Homo sapiens: one gene and its partners. The protein of the gene in region 1 purifies or fractionates together with the protein of each later gene. This does not show direct contact. Each region holds a gene or a part of one and is shown in the gene's direction. Other genes may lie near its edges.

Evidence for each region.
Region 2: the proteins of USP48 (region 1) and NCBP2 purify together in Homo sapiens (affinity purification with mass spectrometry; 2 studies listed by BioGRID, with this or other methods). This does not show direct contact.
Region 3: the proteins of USP48 (region 1) and HTATIP2 fractionate together in Homo sapiens (co-fractionation; one large-scale study listed by BioGRID). This does not show direct contact.
Region 4: the proteins of USP48 (region 1) and SEC24D purify together in Homo sapiens (affinity purification with mass spectrometry; 2 studies listed by BioGRID, with this or other methods). This does not show direct contact.
Region 5: the proteins of USP48 (region 1) and CTPS2 fractionate together in Homo sapiens (co-fractionation; one large-scale study listed by BioGRID). This does not show direct contact.
Region 6: the proteins of USP48 (region 1) and PAH purify together in Homo sapiens (affinity purification with mass spectrometry, with the first as the bait; one large-scale study listed by BioGRID). This does not show direct contact.
Region 7: the proteins of USP48 (region 1) and RBM26 purify together in Homo sapiens (affinity purification with mass spectrometry, with the first as the bait; one large-scale study listed by BioGRID). This does not show direct contact.

What each region holds. Positions count from the first base shown.
Region 1 is NC_000001.11:21,755,650-21,759,149, reverse strand, and holds part of USP48 (ubiquitin carboxyl-terminal hydrolase 48), read left to right. Parts: intron 1-1,366; coding exon 1,367-1,487; intron 1,488-2,445; coding exon of another isoform or gene 2,446-2,447; coding exon 2,448-2,604; intron 2,605-3,500.
Region 2 is NC_000003.12:196,934,906-196,937,217, reverse strand, and holds the end of NCBP2 (nuclear cap-binding protein subunit 2), read left to right. Parts: intron 1-135; coding exon 136-207; 3' UTR 208-1,812; downstream 1,813-2,312. UniProt on the Homo sapiens protein: Component of the cap-binding complex (CBC), which binds co-transcriptionally to the 5' cap of pre-mRNAs and is involved in various processes such as pre-mRNA splicing, translation regulation, nonsense-mediated mRNA decay, RNA-mediated gene silencing (RNAi) by microRNAs (miRNAs) and mRNA export.
Region 3 is NC_000011.10:20,370,214-20,373,713, forward strand, and holds part of HTATIP2 (protein HTATIP2), read left to right. Parts: intron 1-3,500. UniProt on the Homo sapiens protein: Represses translation by preventing reactivation of elongation factor eEF1A. May also inhibit nuclear import by competing with nuclear import substrates for binding to a subset of nuclear transport receptors.
Region 4 is NC_000004.12:118,833,327-118,837,509, reverse strand, and holds the start of SEC24D (protein transport protein Sec24D), read left to right. Parts: upstream 1-1,383; 5' UTR 1,384-1,569; intron 1,570-3,772; 5' UTR 3,773-3,813; coding exon 3,814-3,931; intron 3,932-4,183. UniProt on the Homo sapiens protein: Component of the coat protein complex II (COPII) which promotes the formation of transport vesicles from the endoplasmic reticulum (ER).
Region 5 is NC_000023.11:16,699,170-16,702,669, reverse strand, and holds part of CTPS2 (CTP synthase 2), read left to right. Parts: intron 1-3,500. UniProt on the Homo sapiens protein: Catalyzes the ATP-dependent amination of UTP to CTP with either L-glutamine or ammonia as the source of nitrogen. Constitutes the rate-limiting enzyme in the synthesis of cytosine nucleotides.
Region 6 is NC_000012.12:102,854,745-102,858,244, reverse strand, and holds part of PAH (phenylalanine-4-hydroxylase), read left to right. Parts: intron 1-2,912; coding exon 2,913-3,109; intron 3,110-3,443; coding exon of another isoform or gene 3,444-3,460; exon of another isoform or gene 3,461-3,500. UniProt on the Homo sapiens protein: Catalyzes the hydroxylation of L-phenylalanine to L-tyrosine.
Region 7 is NC_000013.11:79,403,456-79,407,463, reverse strand, and holds the start of RBM26 (RNA-binding protein 26), read left to right. Parts: upstream 1-1,208; 5' UTR 1,209-1,689; coding exon 1,690-1,760; intron 1,761-2,697; exon of another isoform or gene 2,698-4,008. UniProt on the Homo sapiens protein: May be involved in the turnover of nuclear polyadenylated (pA+) RNA.

The sequences.
Region 1 (3,500 bases):
AGTGCAGTGGCACGATCTTGGCTCACTGCAACCTCCGCCTCCTGGGTTCAAGCAATTCTCCTGCATCAGCCTCCAGTCTTCAGCCTGTAGCTGGAGTTACAAACGTGTACCACCACACCTGGCTAATTTTTGTATTTCTAGTAGAGACAGGGTTTCACCATGTTGGCCAGGCTGGTCTCAAAACTCCTAACCTCAAGTGATCCTCCTGCCTTGGCCTCCCAAAGGGCTAGGATTACAGGCGTGAACCACCACGCCTAGCCAGTTGATTTATTTTTGTTTGTGTGCATGCGTGAAGTAGTGTGAGAAACAGTCACATGGTCCCAAATTGTTCATTATATGAAAAGGTACATTTCCTTTTCATTCATTCATTCATTCATTCATTCATTCATTCATTTTTTCCAAGACAGAGTCTTGCTCTGTCGCCCAGGCCAGAGTGCAGTGGTGTAATCTCGGCTCCCTGCAACCTCCGTGTCCTGGGTTCAAGGGATTCTTCTGCCACAACCTCCCAAGTAGCTGGGATTACAGGCCCGCACCGCCACGCCCGGCTAATTTTTGTATTTTTAGTAGAGACAGGGTTTCAGGCTGGTCTCGAACTCCTGACCTTGTTATCCGCCTGCCTCAGCCTCCCAAAGTGCTGGGATTGCAGGTGTGAGCCACTGTGTCCGGCCGAAAAGGTGTATTTTCTTTTAACCTTATTCCCACTCATGCTCTGTAGGTAACCAATTTCATTAGTCTCTTGTTTTTCCTTTCTGTATTTCTTTTTGTACAAAATGAGCAGAAATATGTACATGTATATTTTCCTTATATATTTCTTACACATAACAGTATACTAGAGATACTCCTTTGCATTTTGCTTTTTTTACTTAATAATGTGTCCTGGATTTATAAATTACCTTATATCTGTTCATAGATATCTTTTTCATGCTGTGTGTGTGTGTGTGTGTGTGTGTGTGTGTGTGTGTGTTTTACAGTTGCATAGTACTCTGCCATATAGATGTACCATATTGTCTATTTTTGGGCATTTGGGTGGCTTCCAATATTTTGCAATTAACAGACAGTGCTGTAATGAATAACCTTATGAGTGAGATTTTGCATTGTTGGAGGTATAGCCTAAGGAACAGTAAATCCTCAGAAATGAGATTGCTAGGTCTAAAGGTAGTTGTCTATGTAGTTTTGTTAGTGACTGCATTTCTACCAGCAGTATATGCATGCTTTCTTCTCCACACCCTCACAAACTGAGTGTCTTATACTTTCTCAGTTTTGCTAATTTATAGATGAGAAGTGGTATCTCATTTTAGTTTTAATTTGTTTGTCTCTCATGAAACTATGGTCTTTTAAAAATTAAAGGTTTTTTTTTTCCCCTTAGACGAAACTGCAAAGGAAATCCGAATTGCTTGGTTGGTATTGGTGAGCATATTTGGTTAGGAGAAATAGATGAAAATAGTTTTCATAACATCGATGATCCCAACTGTGAGAGGAGAAAAAAGGTAAACCATCATTTTTTAAGCGATTGCTATATGCTGTTTTTTGTTTTTGTTTTTGCTTTTGTTTTGGGCCTGTGATCAGAAAACTCTACTGATTTCAGGTAACCTGTGCAGCTTTAAGATAAGCAGTAGAACTTAAGACTCTAAGCCACTTGAATTGGAACACTTCTTAATGATATGCTTTAAAACAGGCAGCTGCGTAATTCAGTAAGCCTTTAAATAATAGTTTTAGTTTGAATGCTGATTCTATGTTTGCTTTAACATTGCATGTTTTATTTTGAAATCTTAACGCCTCTTTAAAGGAGATGGTAATTCAAGGGAACAAACTCATGATGATAGCACTTTGCTTTCTAGGGCTTGTATTTTATATATAATTTTGCTTTTTAAAAATATACATTAAATTTTCTAGACATAAATCTTAGCATTCACGAAATATCCAAGTTTGTTATATATAGATATTTTAATAAAATAATAATTCTTTGTAAGGTCAGGAATTCCCAACCTTATCTTTGGAAAAAGTTGCAGCCAGTTCCCTCTACCACCGCCAATCTTTAAAATCTCTAGAATATAAAGGAAGTTTTCTGCATAAGTTTTACTTTGTCATTCTGCTGAATGCTGGCAGTTTAGAAATACAGAAAACATAAAACCTATATACGCTTGTTCAAAACCGATCTTTTCTAGAATCCACTGTTCTAATTTTAGATTTAAGTGGCTGGAGAAGACGATATGCTAGAGATGAGCAGTGATGCCGTCCGAAGTCTTTTTCACTCCTGTGGTCAACCCAAAATGGGGCTTTCATGAAAATTATGCCCCACCTCCAGCCAAGAGAAACTTAAGGTGGCTATACCATGTTGGTTGTGACGGTCTTACACATTTTTAATCTGAAAATTTAAGAATAATGCTTAGAAATTGGTTGTTTAAAGGAAAATGGGTTTTATAATTATGAATTTTGTATTTTTGTAGAACTCATTTGTGGGCCTGACTAACCTTGGAGCCACTTGTTATGTCAACACATTTCTTCAAGTGTGGTTTCTCAACTTGGAGCTTCGGCAGGCACTCTACTTATGTCCAAGCACTTGTAGTGACTACATGCTGGGAGACGGCATCCAAGAAGAAAAAGGTGGGTGGAAAGGGGTGGGGGAGAGCTCTCTTCCTGAACATTTTTTTAAACTTTTTTTTTTTTTTTTTTTTGAGTCTTCCTCTGTTTCCCAAGCCAGAGTGAAGTGGCGCCATCTCGGTTCACTGCAACGTCTGCCTCCTGGGCTGAAGCGATTCTCCTGCCTCAGCCTCTTGAGAAGCTGGGATTACAGGCGCCCGCCACCACGCCTGGCTAGTTTTTGTATTTTTAGTAGAGACAGCGTTTCACTATGTTGGCCAGGCTAGTCTCGAACTCCTGACCTCAAGTGATGTGGCTGCCTCGGCCTTCCAAAGTGCTGCGACTACAGGTGTGAGCCACTGTGTCTAGCCTAAACTTATTTTATTATTATTATTATTATTTTTTTAAGACAGTTTCACACTTGTTGCCCACGCTCTAGTGCAATGGCACAATCTCGGTTCACCACAACCTCCGCCTCTCAGGTTCAAGCAATTCTCCTGCCTCAGCCTCCCGAGTAGCTGGGATTACAGGCGTGCACCACCACGCCCGGCTAATTTTGTATTTTTAGTAGAGACGGGGTTTCTCCATGTTGGTCAGGCTGGTCTTGAACTCCCGACCTCAGGTGATCCACCCGCCTCGGCTTCCCAGAGTGCTGGGATTACAGGTGTGAGCCACTGTGCCTGGCCTAAACTTATTTTTTTTATAGAGACAGTGTCTTGCTCTGTTGCCCAGGCTGGTCTTGAACTTCTGGCCTTAAGCAGTCCTCCTGTCTCGGTCTCCAAAAGTGCTGGATTACAGGCATGAACCATGGTGCCAGGCCTTGAATAGCTTTTACCAGCCTGCAAAACCTTTGCACCCCAAGGAGTAATATTTTATCTTTATTTTACAGATGGTATATTGACTTGCTGAAAGCCACAATT
Region 2 (2,312 bases), on another chromosome or scaffold:
GTGCATATGTCCTGCTTGAAATGTTCACATTGTGGCATCTGAACAGGTTTCACTGTTTGTCTAACATGTTTGTGGGAGGCATATTTGTTACACCATTCTTTTCCATACTGTAACTCTGGATTCTTTCCATTAAAGGTTCGGGATGAGTATCGGCAGGACTACGATGCTGGGAGAGGAGGCTATGGAAAACTGGCACAGAACCAGTGAGTGGTGAGAGCTCTGTCAGTGACAAACACTCCTTTGGCCTGTTGAATTTGCTGAAGAACATCACCTAAAGTCTGCACACGAGCCCATTTTTACCAAGATTTGATCAGTGTCTTTACTGAGCTGGAAGCCTCTGAAAGTTATTAAAGGACAGAATCCAAAAGAATGCCTTTAATTCTTGTCTGAGAATCTTGGCCATGTGTCAGATTATCAGAACAATTTTGTTACCAGGTCAGAAATTGTGTTCTTTGACAACAGATTGGATCTGTAATGTTGATTAGTCTTTAGCCATAACCACTACACTTTTAGAAAGACAGAAAAATGTAAGAATTTGTTTTTACCATAATGAGTCTTAAGTAGGTTCATGATCTACATTGGGGCCTGGGATTATTTTTTTAATTTTAAGTTTGCATGAGATAGCCTAATAAATGGAGGTGGGGCCAGGCATGGTGGCTCACACGTGTAATCCCAACACTTTGGGAGGCTGAGGAGGAAGGATAGCTTGAGGCCAGGAGTTTGAGACTAGACTGGGCAACATAGCAAGACCCCGTCTCTACAAAGCACAACGAAAAACAACAAATGGAGTTGTGCTATGTTGTATTGCTTTGCACAAAATTAGGAACAGGTGTTTGACAATTGAATTTGTTTTCTGTGAATTCTAACCTCTAAAGGCATGCTTAGAGGTCAAGGACCTTCCTGTGTAGTTGGTGCAAAAGCAATCTCCACAGGACAGCACTGCTTCCATGCTTCATACATCAGGAAATGAGGCCAGAACTTGAGTATTTACTAACACGTTTTTCAAAAGATGTCAGTGTTATACCTAAAGCTAAAAAAAAGCAAGGGTTTGTCATAGAGGGAACCTCTAAATAATTTCAGGGGTAGGGGAGATGTTGTCAATAGGAAATGGGATAAAATATCAAGAGACAATGAAAACACTGCCTTGACATGAGGACCAGCAAGTTTATTCTTTTCATTTTCAGTGATGTTGGGAATGGACTGGGTTTTAAAAGGGAGCTTGAAGAGGGAATGTTTGACAGTCACAGAAGGTTCCTGCAGCAGATGCCTCTTTTAGCCATTTCTCATTTTTTTCCTCAAATTTTACCTACTGAGGCTCAAGCCTTCACAGTGAGCTGATGGTCTCTACAGGGAGGGGAGTCTAGGGAATTTATTTGGTATTTGTAAGGCAAGAGGTGATTTCTCTCTAATATATCTGAGTTATTGCTCATTTAAAACTGTTAAGTCCAGTATAATTTTCCCTGATATGAAAAAATGTGCATTTTTTTCACTTAGCAACAAAGTACCTTCTAATTTCCAATAGTCCGTGAAAGTTGGGGCTGAAGTACCTAAGTGTGAATGTCTCTCCCGTTAAACTGAGTGTAGAAATCTGAATTTTTAAAAGAGCTGTAACTAGTTGTAAGTGCTTAGGAAGAAACTTTGCAAACATTTAATGAGGATACACTGTTCATTTTTAAAATTCCTTCACACTGTAATTTAATGTGTTTTATATTCTTTTGTAGTAAAACAACATAACTCAGATTTCTACAGGAGACAGTGGTTTTATTCGGATTGTCTTCTGTAATAGGTTTCAATAAAGCTGGATGAACTTATCGTTGTTGCTGCCTGTTTCCTGGCCTATAAAGAGGGTTGTGTTCTGGAATTCCTGTACTCTGGATACACATGAATGAGTTCCAGGGGGATTCTATGAATAGTGTGGACAATTCGCGTGTCCATTTTGATTGACTGACAGTTGGAAATAACTATTGCTGCGTGTGAAGAGAGCGCACAGATTTTCTTGTGAAAGTGATCAAATAGGCACCAAGCAACCTCTACTGATGGAAGAATAGGTTAGTTTTCCAAAAAACATGCTCTGGATGATTGCAAGGGAAGGGAAATTGTGGGTGGATTAAGAACATCTTATGTTTCCTGGGCTAGAGAACACTAAATGTGAGTCTCTTTACTGCACCATTCTTTCCTATTTCTCATGGATAGCATCTGACCTGTTTCTCACTTTAATCGGAGAAAAGTGAAAATTCAAACGTACAGATGAAGGCATCACTATTAATACATGTTAGTGAAGTGTGAGAATTAAACATTCAGTTTCTCAGTCA
Region 3 (3,500 bases), on another chromosome or scaffold:
AACCTTTGCCTTGCTTTAGTGAGTAACTTGTTTGCTAGTGAAGATTGAAATAGCCTTTGAAAACCAGATCTGTATTGTCCTGGAGTGAAGCACAAAAACTTAGAGATGCCAGTGAGAATAGTTCATTTCCCCTTATTTGTATCAAAAGAGGGATTTGATTAGTGAATTCAAGGTGGTTCGATGTGGTTTCACCTTTTCATTTGTTTCCTCACCTGGTCGTAGTAGGCTCCAGAAGTCCAGGTTCTTGTTTTCTGTTGAGTGGATGATGTCATTAATGTGATTAGTGTGGCCACTGTGACATTTATTAGGCATCTCATGGCCCATCTCATTAGAACCTTATGGCTTCTGATTCTAATGATCTGCTCTTCTAATTCAAAGGTTTGCAATACAGCCTGCCACCTGTTTTTGTACACCCTGTGAGCTAAGAATGTCTTTATGTATATATTTTTTTTTTGAGACGGAGTCTCGCTCAGTTGCCCAGGCTAGAGTGCAGTGGCGCAATCTCGGCTCACTGCAAGCTCCGCCTCCTGGGTTCACGCCATTCTCCTGCCTCAGCCTCCCAAGTAGCTGGGACTACAGGTGCCCACCACCATGCCCAGCTAATTTTTTGTATTTTTAGTAGAGATGGGGTTTTACCGTGTTAGCCAGGATGGTCTCGATCTCCTGACCTCGTGATCTGCCCGTCTTGGCCTCCCAAAGTGCTGGGATTACAGGCGTGAGCCACCGCACCCGGCCTATATTTTTAACTGGTTAAAAAATTCAAAAGAATAATGTCATACCATGTGAAAATATAAAAACTTCAAATTTTAGTCTTTATACATAAAGTGGTATTGGGACACAGCCATGCTTATTACTTTATGTATTATCTGTGGCTGCTTTTGTGCTATTAACATAATGGTAGAGCTATATAGTTGCAACAGAGGCCTGCAAAGCTAAAAATAGTTACTGTCTGATCCTTTACAGGAAAAGTTTGCCCACCCTTGTTCTAATCTCTGTTGTTTATTTGATGTCTAGGAGGGGGCTTGTGAAGTGGCGAGGTCCTAGCTGGTTCAAGGGACCCAGATCACAGGCCCTGTTTGGTTGCCAAGTAGCTATGGAGCCTGGAGTTTGCTGGTTAGCTTTTGGAGGCCACTACCTCCTTGTCTGTCAGAAGGAGGTGACCAGTGAACCCACCTTCCTACTGCAAAATTCTTAAACATTTTTCTGTTTTTTTGAGACAGAGTCTCATTCCATCGCCCAGGCTGGAGTGCAGTTGTGTGATTTCGGCTCACTGCAGGAGTGCGATTTCGGTCACTGCAGCCTCCACCTACCCAGCTCAAGCAATCCTCCCACCTCAGCCTCCCAAGTAGCTGGGACCACAGGCATGCGCCACCATGGCTGGCTAATTTTTGTATTTTTTTTTGTAGAGACAGGGTTTTGCCATGCTTCCCACCCAGGCTGGTCTTGAACTCCTGGGTTCAAGTGATCTGCTTGCCTCGGCCTCCCAAAGTGCTGGGATTACCATGAGCCATCGCACCCGGCCTGAAAAATTCTTTGACTCTATGAAACACAGAAGAAAGAATATCCAATTGGAAAACTTTTTCAAGAACATATAGATTGACCCAGGAATCCTCAGTATCTGCTTGATTTTATTTATCTATCCAGAACTTCTCTAACCAAGATCTTTCCCCTACCATTGAACATCAAATATGGAGATGCCCTCCAGGACACAAACAAAAGGTGCCTCAGATTATACCATTTGGTGTTTGTCAGCATCTTTGTTTTCTAGTCTAATTTATAGGGTTGGATTGAAAGGGAGTGAAGGAGAAAGAACCTGAAGCAGAAATAGGGCTGAATGGGACCTTTACAGAATGATAGACCCACCCTTCTTGGAAAAAGATCCCCATGATTTACTTTTTTATAAATTAATTAATTTTTTAGAGACAGGGTCTCACTGTGTTGCCAAGGCTAGACTCAAATTCCTGGGATCAAGCGATCTTCCTGCTTCAGCCTCCTGAGTAGCTGGGACCACAGACCACCGTGCCTGACCCCATGACCTTCTTGAGTCGTTTAGACGTGCTAACTTGTCCTATCAGTCAGCACTGAAATACTATACCTTGTTAGGATGAGTTGTTCTGAAGCCAGAATGTTGTTTTTAGTTTTCAGGCACTGGTAAAGAAGATTAGAAGAAATACTTAGTAGCTTTGGATTTTAGTAAGACTTAAGAGTCGTTGGAGAATTTGCTGCCTTTGATGTTGTGGAGCCTATGAGGATATCTCTACTGAGTGTAGTATACTGTGTTTATTCTTTTTGAGAGGGTGCTGGGAAAGGACTTTATAGTGGGAACTTATTTAATTAATTCCTTTTTCTAGAAGGGACTCAGATTCCTAGCTTAGAGCAGGACACATTGGCTATGGAATCATAAAGACAGAATGACATGTGGACTTAATACTCTCAGAAGAGATGTCTGTCCACATGGTTAGGGAAACTAAGTACAGTTTTTCTAAAAATTGTGTTTCTGAGATATGAAATAGCTTGCTTTAGTTAGTTTTTCTGTTGTTTTTTTAATCGAGCTATTGGAGAACAATAAAGGGCATGAATAAGATTTTCGAGATCGCTCCTTTCATCTGTAAATAGAATCTTCCTCACTCCAGAGAAAATTGGTGTGTGATACCTCCTAGTCAGTCATCAGGACCCATGCTTCAGTTTGATTTTTAAGTCTTTGAAAGCTGTTGACCCTTTTGCTTTTGAGTTTCATTCACCAGCTAAAAGGCCACGCCATCAGGGTGACGGAAGTGAAATTCAAAATTTAGTGGGCTTGGAAAAACGCGTATTTATAATGAGCTTGAAGGCTCAGAGGATTTGTGAAATCGTTTTGGATTAACAGCCATTGATTGCTAATAAAACAATATTTAGCTTTGTCCAGAGAACAGCAATGGAGAAAGGTATGGGCACCTTGTCAACAGGCCCCATTGAGCAGGGATGATGGGCTAAGTGTGGGGGTCTCTGCAGCAGCGTGGGTGCTCGTCCTTCAAGGAGCGGTTGTCAGTCGTTAGCGAGGCGGGTGAAAGGAAGGACGCCAAAGTCTGATGGCCGGGGTGGTATTGATGTGCCTTCGCTGACTAATCAGATTGAAAAAGTCCCATGGTATTTATGTCACTTTAATTTTCATCAAACAATTGGAGACGACAGCACTCTATTAAGGAGAGGTTGATCCAGAACTAAAGCCAAATAAATTAGGGTCTCAGTTTAATCAAATTATCCTTTTACTGGCTCTGGATTAAGTGAGAGAGACAGCGTCGGTCAGGAGACTTGTGATTGGCTGAATCTTTCCCTTATTTTTAAAGAAACGGATGAAAGAAAAAGTATTTTAACAGACTACTATAATAATCCTTCCAATCAATCTTGCTAAAACAACAACAACAAAAAAACTGAATTTATTTCACTAGTCAACTGTGTCATTTTGTTGTGAATAACTAACCTGTCATTAAAATCAGAGTTCTGATAAACTGGCATGAGGG
Region 4 (4,183 bases), on another chromosome or scaffold:
ATCACATTGAGAATACAAGAAACAATTTAAAACAAAAATTTCAATGTGGGTTTTCAAACCTGATCAGTGTTGAAGCTGGATGTAGGCCAGATATCTTACCTTAAAATCTTTTTTTCTTTTTCTTGAGACAGGGTCTCACTCTGTTGCCCACGCTGGAACGCAGTGGTGTGATCATAGCTCACTGCCTCCTGGCCTCAAGCAATCCTCCCTGCTTGGCCTCCCAAAGTGCTGGGATAACAGGTGTGAGCCACTGTGCCTTGCCCCATGCCTTAAAAACTTTTAAGAGTGGGATAAATGGACCATATATCTTTACTGCTAAAATGACTTAAAATTCCTGCACAATTCATGTAGCATTTCGGGAGTAGCAACATCCCCATGTACGTTTTTACCTAGGCAGTTCATCAGTAAAGGTATTTGTCAAGTGGCTTTCTTGTAGCCGGGAAGAAAGTGCATGTTAAAAACAACAACACCGGGCTGGTTTTTACTTTGTAAGTTTGAGCAAAGTGGTAGCTATACCAAACCTGGGAGTGGCTGAATGTCTTTCTATTTAGCAGTGAAAGATGATAGGAAACCAGCCAGATGGTCCTGATTTTAGGGTGAGATAGAGAGGTAAGCTCCAGATCTCATATAGGTTGCCTTTATTTCTGAGCTGTTTCTCACAGGACGGTGAGCTAAACGCTGGGTGCTTTTCCATGCAGAGATTCCTGTTTGGGGCTGGGATCAGCCATCCTACTTCACAAACAAGGAATATGCGGAAGAAGGAGTATACACAACGCTAACAACCCCAATATCAATGGAAACCCCACTTCCCACACTTTTCCTTTGGGACATCTCCCCCACCCCCCACTCCTCCCGCGTTACACGTTGCCAGGCTGCTTTGGGCGTTCCTTCCTCTGTAGTGCATTGCACGGGTACGTCATCAAATGTGCGTGTACACGTGCCAGATTCGCCTTTAAACGGTAATCTCCCCTAGGTCCAGATCGTGTACTTTCCCGTATGTAACGGTAGTGCAGTACCTGAACTATTAGTTATTTAAGTAATACGTAATGAATGAAGAGCTGAAACTGCAACCTGTTGATGGAAGAATGAATGAACGCGCTCCCCTCCTTCCTGCGGGGCTGCGCCGAGAAAATACGGTTCTGATTTAGCCACGACGTTAAAGGCTTTGACCTGTAGGGGGAGGGGAAAGAAAAGACGGGAAAAAGAAAACCAAAAAACAAAAAACCGGAAAAAGGGAAAAAGCGAAAAGGGGGAGGTCGCTCGGCCGCTCGCAGGCTCAGCCCGGTGGCCCCGCCCCGCGGCGGCCGGTGGCTGTGCGCGTGCGCAGGCGGGAGCGCGGCGGCTGGTCCAAGCCCGGCGCTGGGGGCGCGCAGCCGAGAAAGGGTTTGACGTGGCAGTTCCCAGCCCAGCTGCAACTCCGAGCGTGAGTCCAGGCTAAGGGGACGCCGGCCGGGGAAGAGGCGCGGCGGGAGAAGCGACCGCAGCGGGAGCCCGGCCACCGAGGGCTGCCGGCACTAGGCGCAGAGCCGCCAGCGCTCGGAAGCCCGCGGGGTGCGGGAGCGGGAACAGGTAAAGCCTCCCACCCGCGGACGCCTTCATGCGGGACAGCCCTGCCCAGGCACAGCGGAGCGGGTTGCGGCGCCCGGCCCGGGGACGCGGCGGGAGGCCGGGTGCTCACCTGAGGCAGTGGCGGCGGGAGGAGAACTCATTCTTTGTTCTTTAGCCTTCTAGTGCAGTTTAATAGTGGGGCCGGCGGGATGGGGGAGCAGGAGGTGGGCGTGGGCATTTTTTACCCGCCCCCACCTTTTGCCTTGGGATGCAGGAACTGCCTTGTTAGGATCCTCAGTGGCCACCATTCGAGTGTCATTGCCAGCGGTTTTCTCATCTCCTTATCAACTTAATTTCCTTTTTTGAAGGAAGGAAATGTTAGAAATATTCATGGTAAAAATGGCAACTATATCTTGAAGCCTCGGGACATCCGAATAGTGAAACTGATCTGGCCAAATACGAACTTGTTCCAGGGTTAGAAGTGCACCTTGGCTAGAGTTGCTGGGTGACAGTGAGCCAGGGGGCCGTTCTGGGGTTGGGGCTCCCCAGATTTTGATCCTAGGCCTGCTTATACCAAGTGGCTTTCTGCCGTGTCGCCGCTTGAAGCTGAGTCAGGTTTCTTTAACTTGGTGCTCTGTGTGAGGAAGTTTGACGTGGCAAACTGGGTTGCGTGAGGAAGCTGATTCCTCTGAGGACCAGTTCAGAGGGAACTGGCTGCTTCCTGTTCTTTGGAGTGACCATCTCAGCCTCTCTTTTCTGTCACTCAGCAACAGGCTGCTACTTAGGTGTGTTCGTGCCGACTTCCTAAGTGCTCTTGGTTGGATGAGCTTGACCAGCGCTCAGGCTGCCACGTCTCTCTCTGCTAAGTGGGAGGAGGAAAAAGGGGTTGTCAGAAACAAAGTGGACCAGAAGGCCTTTGCCTGCCTCTCTCCTCTTTTTCAGTTCTCCCCTTCCCAGGAGAAGGAAATGATCTCATAATATTTTTACATGGTTGCTTTTATTTTGGAAACTTATAGTTTAATATGGAAACAAAATCAAATCACAAATTTTAGGCTTCAAATTTTTAATTTGAAATGTTATTTCTTGAATATAGACAGATTCTAAGTCTTAGCAGGTATCACTGATCTCTTATCTTAAATTGTAGCAAATAAAAGAACAAAAGGAAGAATATGCTTGTATGGGGCAAATAAACTGGAGATAAATTGTAGAATCAGTGGAAATCTGGAAAGGCTTCATTTTCTAAAAGAAGGAACTGAGGCTTAGAGAGGTTCTTCAGCTCATTCCATGTCACACAGTTAAGTATGGCAGACATAGAATGGAAACCCACTTCTCTTGCATTCAAAGCATTTTCTGTCGTATTTAATTTTTTTTTTTAAATCATCAGTCCTATGAAATATCTCTTATTTTGTTAAAACCTGGAAAAAATAGAAAATTTAAAGCAAATTTGGGTTCTGATTAGAATCAAGATTTAAAAAAAATCAAGATGAGTCTGTTATATTTGTGATGTGTGTGCCTACACACTTACAAAATTACACTTTTTTTCCTTAGTCCCCTAAATATAGGTGCATATGTTCTTAGAGATGTGATATGATTTAAATTAGAAAGAAATTCTGTCGCCTTTGAAAAACCACTGACAACACTCAAGTGGTTATAGTGACCACCTGGCTCGGTCAAATTATGACTCATAAAATAAGCCCATTATCAACGTTGTCTGTTGCTATGTTTGTTGGACTATGATTTCTCTTTGTCCTAATGACTAGATTAAAATAATTAATTAGATGAGCACTAAAAAGACGTAAGTCATAAAACATCTGATTGCAGGCTACTGGCAGTTATGGTGGTCAGTCAATTGAATGGCATGGTGTGCTCTGTGCTGAAATGTGACCATGGAAACCAAAAGCACAAAATCATAGGAACACTATGAGAGACTATCTGTGAGATGCTTCAGGCTTCCATTAAAAAAGTGGTTGCGAGTTATTATTCAGGTCTCATGCTTGAGAATTTGCCCAGGATTATTGAAGTGATTTACTGAGTTTCAGAGAGCTATGGTTAGGCCCTTTTTAGGGGATAATGATATATTGTATAATACAAAGATTTCTCATGTACCTGATATCTGTACTTTTCCTCAAACCATCATAAACATGTAATAACAGTGTTTATATTTTTAATAGCTTTACGTAACTAAAACTGTCTTGGTAACATGTTTCTTGTTTCTCTGTTGCAGACTTCTTTTGTAGAATTATCCTATGGAATGATATTTTCATAATGAGTCAACAAGGTTACGTGGCTACACCTCCGTATTCTCAGCCTCAGCCTGGAATAGGCCTTTCTCCACCTCATTATGGGCACTATGGGGATCCGTCGCACACAGCATCTCCAACAGGTACAGTGTGTTATTTTGACTTGTATGTGATTATTCAGTTCTCAGGCTCAGAGACATAAGATGTTCTGAAAGAGGAGATTTGAAAGCATTGAATGATCATTATATAATGAAATGGCTTGAGATTACAGGATCATTTGGAAAAGGCTCTCATAGCAGAACTCTACATCACTAGTTTGGTTATTGCATGCAATACAAGTTTGGTTTTTAAATATAGACTAAAACAAACACTTCCTGTTTTATTTTTACTGTGAG
Region 5 (3,500 bases), on another chromosome or scaffold:
AATTTCTTTAGGATGTAGTTCCAGATTTAGAGTGACTAGATCGTATGCTATGAATATGTGAATTTTCTCATGGTCATTGATACATTGTTCATACCTCTGATGACATTCCAAATTAATCATCCCTTTTGGAAACATTGTATCTTTTGCACTACAGATTCTGTTTTATTTTTAACATAAAGGTAGTGTGTTTCTCTTAACATTTCCCACTGCCTGGAGTAACTATTATTAATGGTGACATTTTGATGTATGAGTATATTTGATTTATTTTTAAAATGGCATTAGCCCTTACATGCTATTTTTAAAAAACTTTTTATAAGGCCCAGTGCGGTGGCTCATGCCTGTAATCCCAGCACTTTGGGAGGCCGAGGCAGGTGGATCACGAGGTCAGAAGATCGAGACCATCCTGGCTAACACAGTGAAACCCTGTCTCTACTAAAAATACAAAACATTAGCTGGGCGTGGTGGCACGTGTCTGTAGTCCCATCTACTCAGGAGGCTGAGACAGGAGAATCACTTGAACCTGGCAGGCGGAGGTTGCAGTGAGCCAAGATCGAGCCATTGCACTCCAGCCTGGGCGACAGAGCGAGACTCTGTCTCAAAACAAACAAACAAACAAACAAACAAAAACAACAAAAAACCAACCCCCAAAAAAACCTTTTTATATACAAGCAAAAAAGTGCATAAATCATAAGTGTACAGTTGGATGAATTTTCATTAAATGAACACACTGTGTAACCAGCCCCTGATCAAGAAACAGAAATGTTCATGTCCTGCCGGGCGTGGTGGCTCACGCCTGTAATCCTAGCACTTTGGGAGGCTGAGGCGGGCGGATCACGAGGTCAGGAGATCGAGACCGTCCTGGCTAACACGGTGAAACCCCGTCTCTACTAAAAATACAAAAATTAGCCGGGCGCGGTGGCGAGCGCCTGTAGTCCCAGCTACTCGGGAGGCTAAGGTGGGAGAATGGCGTGAACCCAGGAGGCGAACTTGCAGTGAGCCGAGATTGCGCCACTGCACTCCAGCCTGGGTGACAGAGTGAGACTCCATCTCAAAAAAAAAAAAAATGTTTGTGTCCCTTGTTGCTATCCTGTCTTCCTGTTTTTGTTTTTTGAGACAGGGTCTCACTCTATCGCCCAGGCTGGAGTGCAGTGGCCAAGATCTCGGCTCAATGCAACCTCCACCTCCTGTGCTCAAGTGATCCTCCTGCTTCAGTCCCCTGGGTAGCTGGGATTACAGGTGTGCACCACCACACCTGGCTAATTTATGTAATTTTTTTATAGAGCTGGGATTTCGCCATGTTACTTAGGCTGGTCTCGACCTCCTGGGCTCAAGCAATCCTCCTACCTCGGCCTCCCAAAGTGGTGGTATTACAGGCATGAGCCACTGCAACAGGCATGAGCCACTGCACCAGGCCTTGAATATCGTGTTTTAAACTTTACTAACCTGAGAATAAAACAAACAAAAAGAGGGTATCTTATTGTTTTAATTTAGAGTTCTTTGATTTTGATTTTGTTTGTGAATGACTTATTCAAGTCTGTGGTAGATTGTATTTTTGCTTCAAAATGTTACCCACCATCCCTCTGTGGAGTACATTTCCCTGCCCTTTGACCTTGGAGTTTGGCCACGTAGGATAGTTAACTTGTCCTGGTTTGTTTGGAATGTTCCTGATTTTAAAACAGAAAGTCCTGTGTCCTGGGAGCCCTCTTAGTCCTGGGCAAACCAAGCAGGTTGGTCACTCTATTTGGCCATGTGATTTATTTTGTCCTATGGGATGTTAGGGAATATTAACATATGCCTTGTTGAAGCAGAAAATGTCAAATGCATCTGTGTGGTTTGGCTCAGTCTGTCTTGTGCTTCTGCCCTCTACCATGAGAACAGCCTGGTTTTCAGAGATTTCTCGTTCAGTCTGGGTCCTGGAATGAGAAGACACAAAGAATAGACTCACAAGTGACTCATAGCCCCCATGTAACATGAGGGAGAAATAAATAAATGTTTTGTAAGTTGCAGAGATTTTGGGGTTGTTTGTTGTGTGGCACCATTGACTAATGCCATGTGTTACACCAAATTTTCTTTGGATTTTTTTTTAATGATTTTTTTTTTCTTTTTTTGAGACAGAGTCTCACTCTGTCGCCCAGGCTGGAGTGCAGTGGTGTGACCTCGGCTCACTGCAACCTCCGCCTCCCAGGTTCAAGCGATTCTCCTACCCAGCCTGGCAAACATGGCGAAACTCTGTCTCTATTTAAAAAAATAATAGGCCGGGCACGGTGGCTCACGCCTGTAATCGCAGCATTTTGGGAGGCTGAAGCAGGTGGATCACGAGGTCAGGAGATGGAGACCATCCTGGCCAACATGGTAAAAACCTGTCTGTACTAAAAATACAAAAAAATTAGCTGGGTGTGGTGGTGCACACCTGTAATCCCAGCTACTCAGGAGGCTGAGGCAGGAGAATTGCTTGAACCAGGGAGTCAGAGGTTGCAGTGAGCCGAGATCGCACCACTGCACTCCAGCCTGGCGATAGAGTGAGACCCTGTCTCAAAATAATAATAATAATAATAATGGTAATACAAAGATTAGCCAGGCGTGGTAGTACATGTCTGTAATCCCAGCTACTTGGGAAGCTGAGACATGAGAATTGCTTGGATCCAGGAGGCGGAGGTTGCAGTGAGCTGAGATCACGCCACTGCACTCCAGCCTGGTTGACAGCGAAACTCTGTCTCAAAAAAAAACATTGAAAAAAAAAATTGAAAAAAAAAGTATTGTGATATCAATTTGCTTTTTTCCTTAAAATTAATTTTCTAGACCACAGTTATGTACCTTAGAATGGATAAATAAATTAGGATATAAAAGGCTTCTGATTAAATTTGTAAGTTAATCAACCTTTTTTCCTGTGGACATCTAACAGTAGGAATAAATGATAGTTCCCTTAATAGGGGAAAGGTTCAATTCTTACAAGGTGGCTTTAGAAACATACGACTCTCAGTCCATGCCCTGAAGTGACAATAGAGATCTACAGACGTGTCTAGTAGTTAAAGTTGGTGCTCCTCGTGTGACGAAGTCTGCACCTGTCTTTTATGACAGTGCATTGTGCACGTAGCTTATGGCACACACAGGCTTTTTCCCTCACTTTCACCAAGTTGCCTTATGGGTTAGCTGTGGCCTTGCTTTGTCATCTACTGTCTAATTATGGCTTTAATCAAGATGAGAATCAAGTAAAAGTTTCTTATCGCAGTTCCAGAGTCCAGGATACTGATGCTTTGAAGTAAAATGCTGTTTGTTTTTAAAATTTCTGTTTTCATGTCTTTTTTATGTGGCATATGTTGAGTTTGGAAAAGCTAAATCTTGAAGACAGAATTTCAGTAGATTAAAAAAAAACCACAATAGAATATTATAAATAGAATTTTCTGATGCATTTTCTTGGATATAATTGAATTGTTAATATCTCCACCAAAAAGGAGATGGTGATAGAATATGGCTTACAAATACATCTTTTACCAGCTTTT
Region 6 (3,500 bases), on another chromosome or scaffold:
CATTGTGTAGTGACCTTCTTTGTCTCTTTTTATCATTGTTGGTTTAAAGTCTGTTTTATCAGAGACTAGGATTGCAACCCCTGCCTTTTTTCATTTTCCATTTGCTTGATAGATCTTCCTCCATCCCTTTATTTTGGGCCTATGTGTGTCTCTGCACGTGAGATGGGTCTCCTGAATACAGCACACTGATACGTCTTGACTCTTTATCCAATTTGCCAGTCTGTGTCTTTTAATTGGAGCATTTAGCCCCATTTACATTTAAGGTTAATATTGTTATGTGTGAATTTGATCCTGTCATTATGATGTTAGCTGGTTATTTTGCTCGTTAGTTGATGCAGTTTCTTCCCGGAATCAATGGTCTTTACAATTTGGCATGTTTTTGCAGTGGCTGGTACCAGTTGTTCCTTTCCATGTTTAGTGCTTCCTTCAGGAGCTCTTGTAGGGCAGGCATGGTGGTGACAAAATCTCTCAGCATTTGCTTGTCTGTAAAGGATTTTATTTCTCCTTCACTTATGAAGCTTAGTTTGTCTGGATATGAAATTCTGAGTTGAAATTCCTTTTCTTTAAGAATGTTGAATATTGGCCCCCACTCTCTTCTGGCTGGTAGAGTTTCTGCCGAGAGATCAGCTGTTAGTCTGATGGGCTTCCCTTTGTGGGTAACCTGACCTTTCTCTCTGGCTGCCCTTAACATTTTTTTCCTTCATTTCAACTTTGGCGAATCTGACAATTATGTGTCTTGGAGTTGCTCTTCTCGAGGAGTATCTTTGTGGCATTCTCTGTATTTCCTGAATTTGAATGTTGGCCTGCCTTGCTAGGTTGGGGAAGTTCTCCTGGATAGTATCCTTCAGAGTGTTTTCCAACTTGGTTCCATTCTCCCCGTCACTTTCAGGTACACCGATCAGATGTAGATTTGGTCTTTTCACATAGTACCATATTTCTTGGAGGCTTTGTTCATTTCTTTTTACTCTTTTTTCTCTAAACTTCTCACTTCATTTCATTCATTTGATCTTCAATCACTGATACCCTTTCTTCCAGTTGGTTGAATCAGCTACTGAAGCTTGTGCATTTGTCACGTAGTTCTCGTGCCATGGTTTTCAGCTCCATCAGGTCATTTAAGGACTTCTCTACATTGTTTATTCTAGTTAGCCATTCATCTAATCTTTTTTCAAGGTTTTTAGCTTCTTTGCAATGGGTTCGAACTTCCTCCTTTAGCTCAGAGAAGTTTTATCGTCTGAAGCCTTCTTCTCTCATCAAAGTCATTCTCTGTCCAGCTTTGTTCCATTGCTGGCGAGGAGCTGTGTTCCTTTGGACGGGGAGAGGTGCTCTGATTTTTAGAATTTTCAGCTTTTCTGCTCTGTTTTTTCCCCATCTTTGTGGTTTTATCTACCTTTGGTCTTTGATGATGGTGACACACAGATGGGGTTTTGGTGTGGATGTCCTTTTTGTTTGTTAGTTTTCCTTCTAACAGTCAGGACCCTCAGCTGCAGATCTGTTGGAGTTGGCTGGAGGTCCACTCCAGACCCTGTTTGCCTGGGTGTCAGCAGCGGAGGCTGCAGAACAGCAAATATTTCTGAACACCAAATGTTGCTGCCTGATCATTCCTCTGGAAGCTTTGTCTCAGAGGGGTACCCGGCCGTGTGCGGTGTCAGTCTGCCCCTGCTGGGGGGTGCCTCCCAGTTAGGCTACTCGGGGGTCAGGGACTCACTTGAGAAGGCAGTCTGTACGTTCTCAGATCTCAAACTCCATGCTGGGAGAACCACTACTCTCTTCAAAGCTGTCAGACAGGGACATTTAAGTCTGCAGAGGTTTCTGCTGCCTTTTGTTTGGCTATGCACTGCCCCCAGAGGTGGAGTCTACAGAGGCAGGCAGGCCTCCTTGAGCTGTGGTGGGCTCCACCCAGTTTGAGCTTCCCGGACTTTTAAAACTAACGACTTTTAAACTATAGTTTGCATCAGAGTCACCTGGGGAGCTTACTAGAATCCAGATATGTGAGCCTTCCCTTCCCCAAGAGATTCAGGATCTATGCGGCCTGGCATATGTACTTGAACAAGCTCAGTGAAGAGAAGGTATGAGGCATTTTATACCTTAGCATGGATTTATATATTTATTTTCTCTCCTTTGTTCCAATATTTATTTATTATCCTTGATCTAGAACTTATTTATTTAGTTTTCTAATTGACAAATAAAAATTGTATATAATTTTTAATTATATACAATTATATAATTGTATATAATTATATAATTGTATATAAAATATGGTGTACAACATGATGTTTTGATATATGTATACAATGTGGAATCTTAATTAGTATGTATTTAAATACCTTTATAACTTCCCAGGAGCAGAAATATCAAACCCAATAAGTGCATGCCTACCAAACAAAGGGGATCTCAGATTCGTGGCCTACATATTAAATCCAGTTTAGCCCACTGGTTTAATTGCTTTAGCTAACACCATAAAAATACACTGTGTTGCTTTAACTTAGATGCCCTGGTTTAGAAAGGGAATATATTCTCCTGCCAGCCCCCATTCTCCTTATTGCCAATCTCTGCAACTTTACAGCTTTGTGATACCTGACTGGCCCGTGCAGGTAAGTGAATTTCTACCCCAGGTAAGCAATTAGAGAATTAGAAGAGTAGAAAAACCAAGTGATTTCCCGAAAGTGAGAGCAAATCCTCATTGTAGCCTGTATCACTGCTTAACCAAATCACCCTTTCATGTGGGAAATCAAAACAACAATGTTTCCTATATCAAGATGTGGAATTTTTCTCTTTCAAATAATGTATGAAATTCACTGTAGCAAGTGATGGCAGCTCACAGGTTCTGGTCCCCGACTCCCTCTGCTAACCTAACCTGCGTTCTGCTGTGCCCCTGCCCTGCTTGAGACACCTATTTTGTGCCTGTATTCTAGTGGGCAGCCCATCCCTCGAGTGGAATACATGGAGGAAGAAAAGAAAACATGGGGCACAGTGTTCAAGACTCTGAAGTCCTTGTATAAAACCCATGCTTGCTATGAGTACAATCACATTTTTCCACTTCTTGAAAAGTACTGTGGCTTCCATGAAGATAACATTCCCCAGCTGGAAGACGTTTCTCAGTTCCTGCAGAGTAAGTCCACATCAGGGTCAATGGCCCTGCAGAAAGTTGGGGGAGGATTGAGGCAGAGGAGAGGGAAGGGGAAGACAAGTATGTGGAGGCAAGTATGAAAGCATGTGCTTGTAGGAATGCATGCAGGTTGATTCCTCCAGGAAGAACTAAATTTCACTGTGCTCTGCCTTCCCTCCAGCCCCTACTGTGTTTATCCACTTTCATTCAATCAAACACCTGAGGCTGTGGATTTTGCCGTGTACCTGTCCCTGAAAAGTATTTTCTTTCACACTTAAAGCCCAAGGTGCTTCACTGAGGTTTTTTTTTGTTTTGTTTTGTTTTGTTTGCCCTGTAGTTCCTGCTGTGTTATGAGTTAGGAGTGTGTGTTTGTGTAAGAAATGTGCTATTTTCG
Region 7 (4,008 bases), on another chromosome or scaffold:
CATTTCCCCTTCTCCTGGGCACCCTCTCCACCCCTGCTCTTGCTACCATTCCACCTTCTGTCTCTAGGAGTTTTGACTACTCTAGGTACTTAATGTAAGTGGAATCATAATATTTGTCCTTTCATGTCTGGTTTATTTCACTCAGCTAAATCACTTTAATCAACACCCTGGTTATTCAGTAGCTGGATTCTAATTTGTATTCTACTCTATATGCTGTATTTTAAAACAAATGTCTTGCTTTGTAGTTCATAATCTTTCCACCTAATCCTTAAAGACACTTCACTCTAGCAAATTATAAACTCAAGAGTTCCTAAGAACAATTTAGCCTATCGGTGTCTCTCATAAAGAGCTTTTATTGATCTACTTACTGAAAATGTCTTTAGATTGTGAATATTTTCATTCCATTACAGTTCATGGAACGTAGACCCTTTGTAAAATTCCACCTAGTATCTAAATAGAACTCAAGCAGGAATCAAACTTATTTGATCACCCAGGAAAATAGTTTATTTATTTGGGTTGCTAATATGAAGACTCTCTCTTTTGATACTATATAATTTCCCGATCTGAGATAGGGCTGAATTTGCTCTAAATAAAGAGAATTTTAAAAATAACAAAACTTATCTTTAGCTGGGGGAAAGTGCAGGCTGGAAACTACCTGAGAGACGTGAAGGTTCTCTCACCTTTCCCTTGTGGGCAGCCCTCAGTCATTAGGGCTCTACCAGCAAGTCAAGTACTGTTGGACAAGACACTAATCCTCTGGCGGTCTCATTGGGCTCCATTAGACCAGCCTGTGTTTACAAACCTCGTTCACATCACAGCATACACAGAATATGATACTGGTAGGGCACTTAGGTAAACTGAGGAGGTAGTGTGCTCGGCACCTGGAACCTACGGGCCGCCTGGTGTCGCGCACGCGGGAGTGTACGCTCTCAAAGAGCGATCCATCCGGCAGGACCGTTCCAGCTGACAGGCCACGGCCGTCTTACCGGGGACGAGCTGGGGTTCCCGCTGTTTCTGAAGTCAGCGGTCTTTTCCTCCTTGTAAGAAATAAGGTCTTTATATCATAAAGGTAAGCAAAGAATAAAAAGGCACAAAGGCCGCAAGCAACGCACACACGCAAAAATCGAACTACAGCACTCGACCCGCGCATTCTCCGCCGACCTTACGTCTCTCCCAGCAGGCTCCGGGAGCCACCGCGAGACTTCATCAATTCTCGCGAGATTTACCGGCAGCCATCTTCTTGGGGGTGCTGGGAGCCGGGAAGACCCCCTGAATCGTTCCCATTGAGCTGCCCTTCGCCTTCGCTTTCTTTACTTTTGCCTTTTCGACGTAGCCAACAAGCACCTGGTCCCGAGGCTGAGAGAAGGCTCGGGTCTAAGCGCGTGTCGCGCTTCCGGTCTGGGTAGATTTGCTGGGGAAGAGGGAAGGGGGAGGGCCCGGGCAAACCGTTGCTGTTTCAGCCCGGGCTGGGGGCCGGGGACGGGGAGCTCCTGGCACCCCGTGCACTTGTGGCCTGCGGCGGTCCTTGCAGAGCTGTTCGCCGACCGGGGCCCGCGGGAACCTGCCACCGGCGCCTCCCACCGCGGCCCACGCGGGCGGCGCGCGGAGGAGGGGGCGGGGGCAGCGGCGGCTGTAGCGGCCGCGACCTGGGCGGGCGGAGGAGTGTGACGGGCCTTAGGGCCGCTGTGGATGGTTTCTAAAATGATCATTGAAAACTTCGAGGCACTCAAGTCCTGGCTCAGCAAGACTCTCGAGCCCATGTGAGTATCCGGGGGATATCTCTTTGCAGGGATGGCAGTGGGAGATAGGCGGACCCAGAGATCTGTGCAGTTTCCCCAAGTGCCTGCGGTGGAGGCCGAAGCGGTGAACGGAGGTCCCAGGGTTCTGTGGCTTCTCCTCCTCGTCCACCTCGCTTCCAGATTCAGGATACCCCCGAGAGCCTGAGTCGAGCTTTATTTTATTGCTGAGCTGCTCTCGTTTTCCCGTTATATATAGACCGTCTCCAACCCCCACCCGCAATATTTTCCGGGGGCCTCAAAATCGGTTTATTTTAGTGAAACCGACTGTATTTTACTTCCTACAGATTATTTTACCTTGTTTTTCTAAATGAAGTAGACGGCCTTTATTGGGGATTCGGGCAGTTCTAGCTTAAATCACTCACGTTTCACCTAAATATAATTCCTGAAAGCAAGGCCACGTCTCCCATGTGCTGTCTGGCTCATCTGCACCTCTCTTCACTGATTGAAGATGTAACAGGTGCTGAGGTGGCCAGTAAAATTCCCCTTTCCCGCCTACGCGTTCGTTAGCTTGGAGAGGAGGAAGAAAATTGAATCTTCATCCATATGGAATATTTAGCAGTTTTAAGTGGGATGCTATAGATAGATTTTGTGTTGGGGGCTGCGGTTAGAGTGCTGAAATAGTCTTAGATTGGAAAATTTAAGGAGTGTTTTGACGACTTGTTAATACAAAATATGACATGGACCAAAGTGCTTAATCAGAATTGGTTGATTTACAATAATGCAATGGGGAAAATTCACGTATTTAATAAAGTTATTAGGTACCTACTGTATACTACGGGAGGCTTTGGGGATAGAGCTTTTAAATTCTAAAATCGACAAGACATAAATAAATCCAGATATTAATAGAGTTGTGACTATTGTAATAATAGAGAATCATGTAAAAGTGATTATGAGGGGGGCTATTTCACATTGGTCAAGGAAGGACTCTCAGAGAAGGTGACATTGGAGTAACATCTAAAGAGAAGGGACCATGTGTGTCAAAGTCTTGGAAAAGAACATTCCTTGCAAAAGGAAGAGCAAATGAAAGGCCCTGTAGCAGAAGTGATTGTGGTGTGTTTCAGGAAGAGAAAGGCCACTGTGGCTGGAAAGAGCCTTGTGATGAGGGAGAGGATATAAAGGCAACAAGTTGGACAAGTAGGTAGGGGCCACATCATGTATGGGAAGACGTGAGATGATTTAAAGCAGACAAGGACTGATTTAATTTTGTTTTAACTCTGCCTATTTTGTAGAGACTGAAAGGGCAAGAATGGAAGTAAGAAGATTATTCAGAAGTGTGTTGTAGGCAGAGATGTGGCTAGTTTGCATTAGAGTGATGGTGGAGACAGGCAGATCCAAATACATTTCATAAGTAAAATTAATGGATTAAATGCGGGAGATGAGGGAAAGGGAAATCAAGGGTGGTGCCTTAGATAACCCAAGCAACAGAATGGGTGATATTAGAGAAGGCAGAGAACAGGTTAAGGGGAGAAGGAAAGTGGATGGCTAGTTTTGATAATAATAAATACAGTAAGTATGAAGTCTGTGGGATACAGCTAAGTGTGATAGCAGATCATTGAATATATGAGTCTAAAACTCAGGACAGGACTGGAGAAATCTGGAGTCATGCAGATAGTATTTAAGACGATGACATTGTGGGAAATTTCATAGAAAAAGTGTGTAGGTAGGGAAGAGAAGAGGGCCTAGTACTGAGGCAGGAGGAAAACTGGGCTTTATGTCATTAAAAAACAAGTGTATGGCAAAAGAGAGGAGTTTATGAAATGCTGCAGAATGCATGAAAAAATGGAGGCAAATAGGTAGCCCTTAGATTTAGCAAAGTGGAAGTCATTGGTAACCTTAGCAAAATAGTTTCACTGGAGTAGAGTTGTGCAGATGGAAGTCCTATTTCGGTGTATTGGAGAGTGGGCATCATAGTATAGCGGTGAGGAGAACTCTGGAGCAGAATGTCTGGCTTTGAATTCTGCCTCTGCCACTTACCAGCTGTATGATATTGGGTAAGTTACTTAACTCAGGGCTTCCATTTCCTCAACTGTAAAATTGGGAAAATAATGGGTGTATATTAAGGAAATCTTAGACTACTGTCTGGTGTGTAATTAGCATTCAGTAGTTATTAGGTGAATACAAAACTTATAAATGTTTTGGATTGAAATAGCTTTCCTTTAAGCGTTCAGTTTCATATTAGATTTACTGCCGTATCCCTCCATCTTACCTA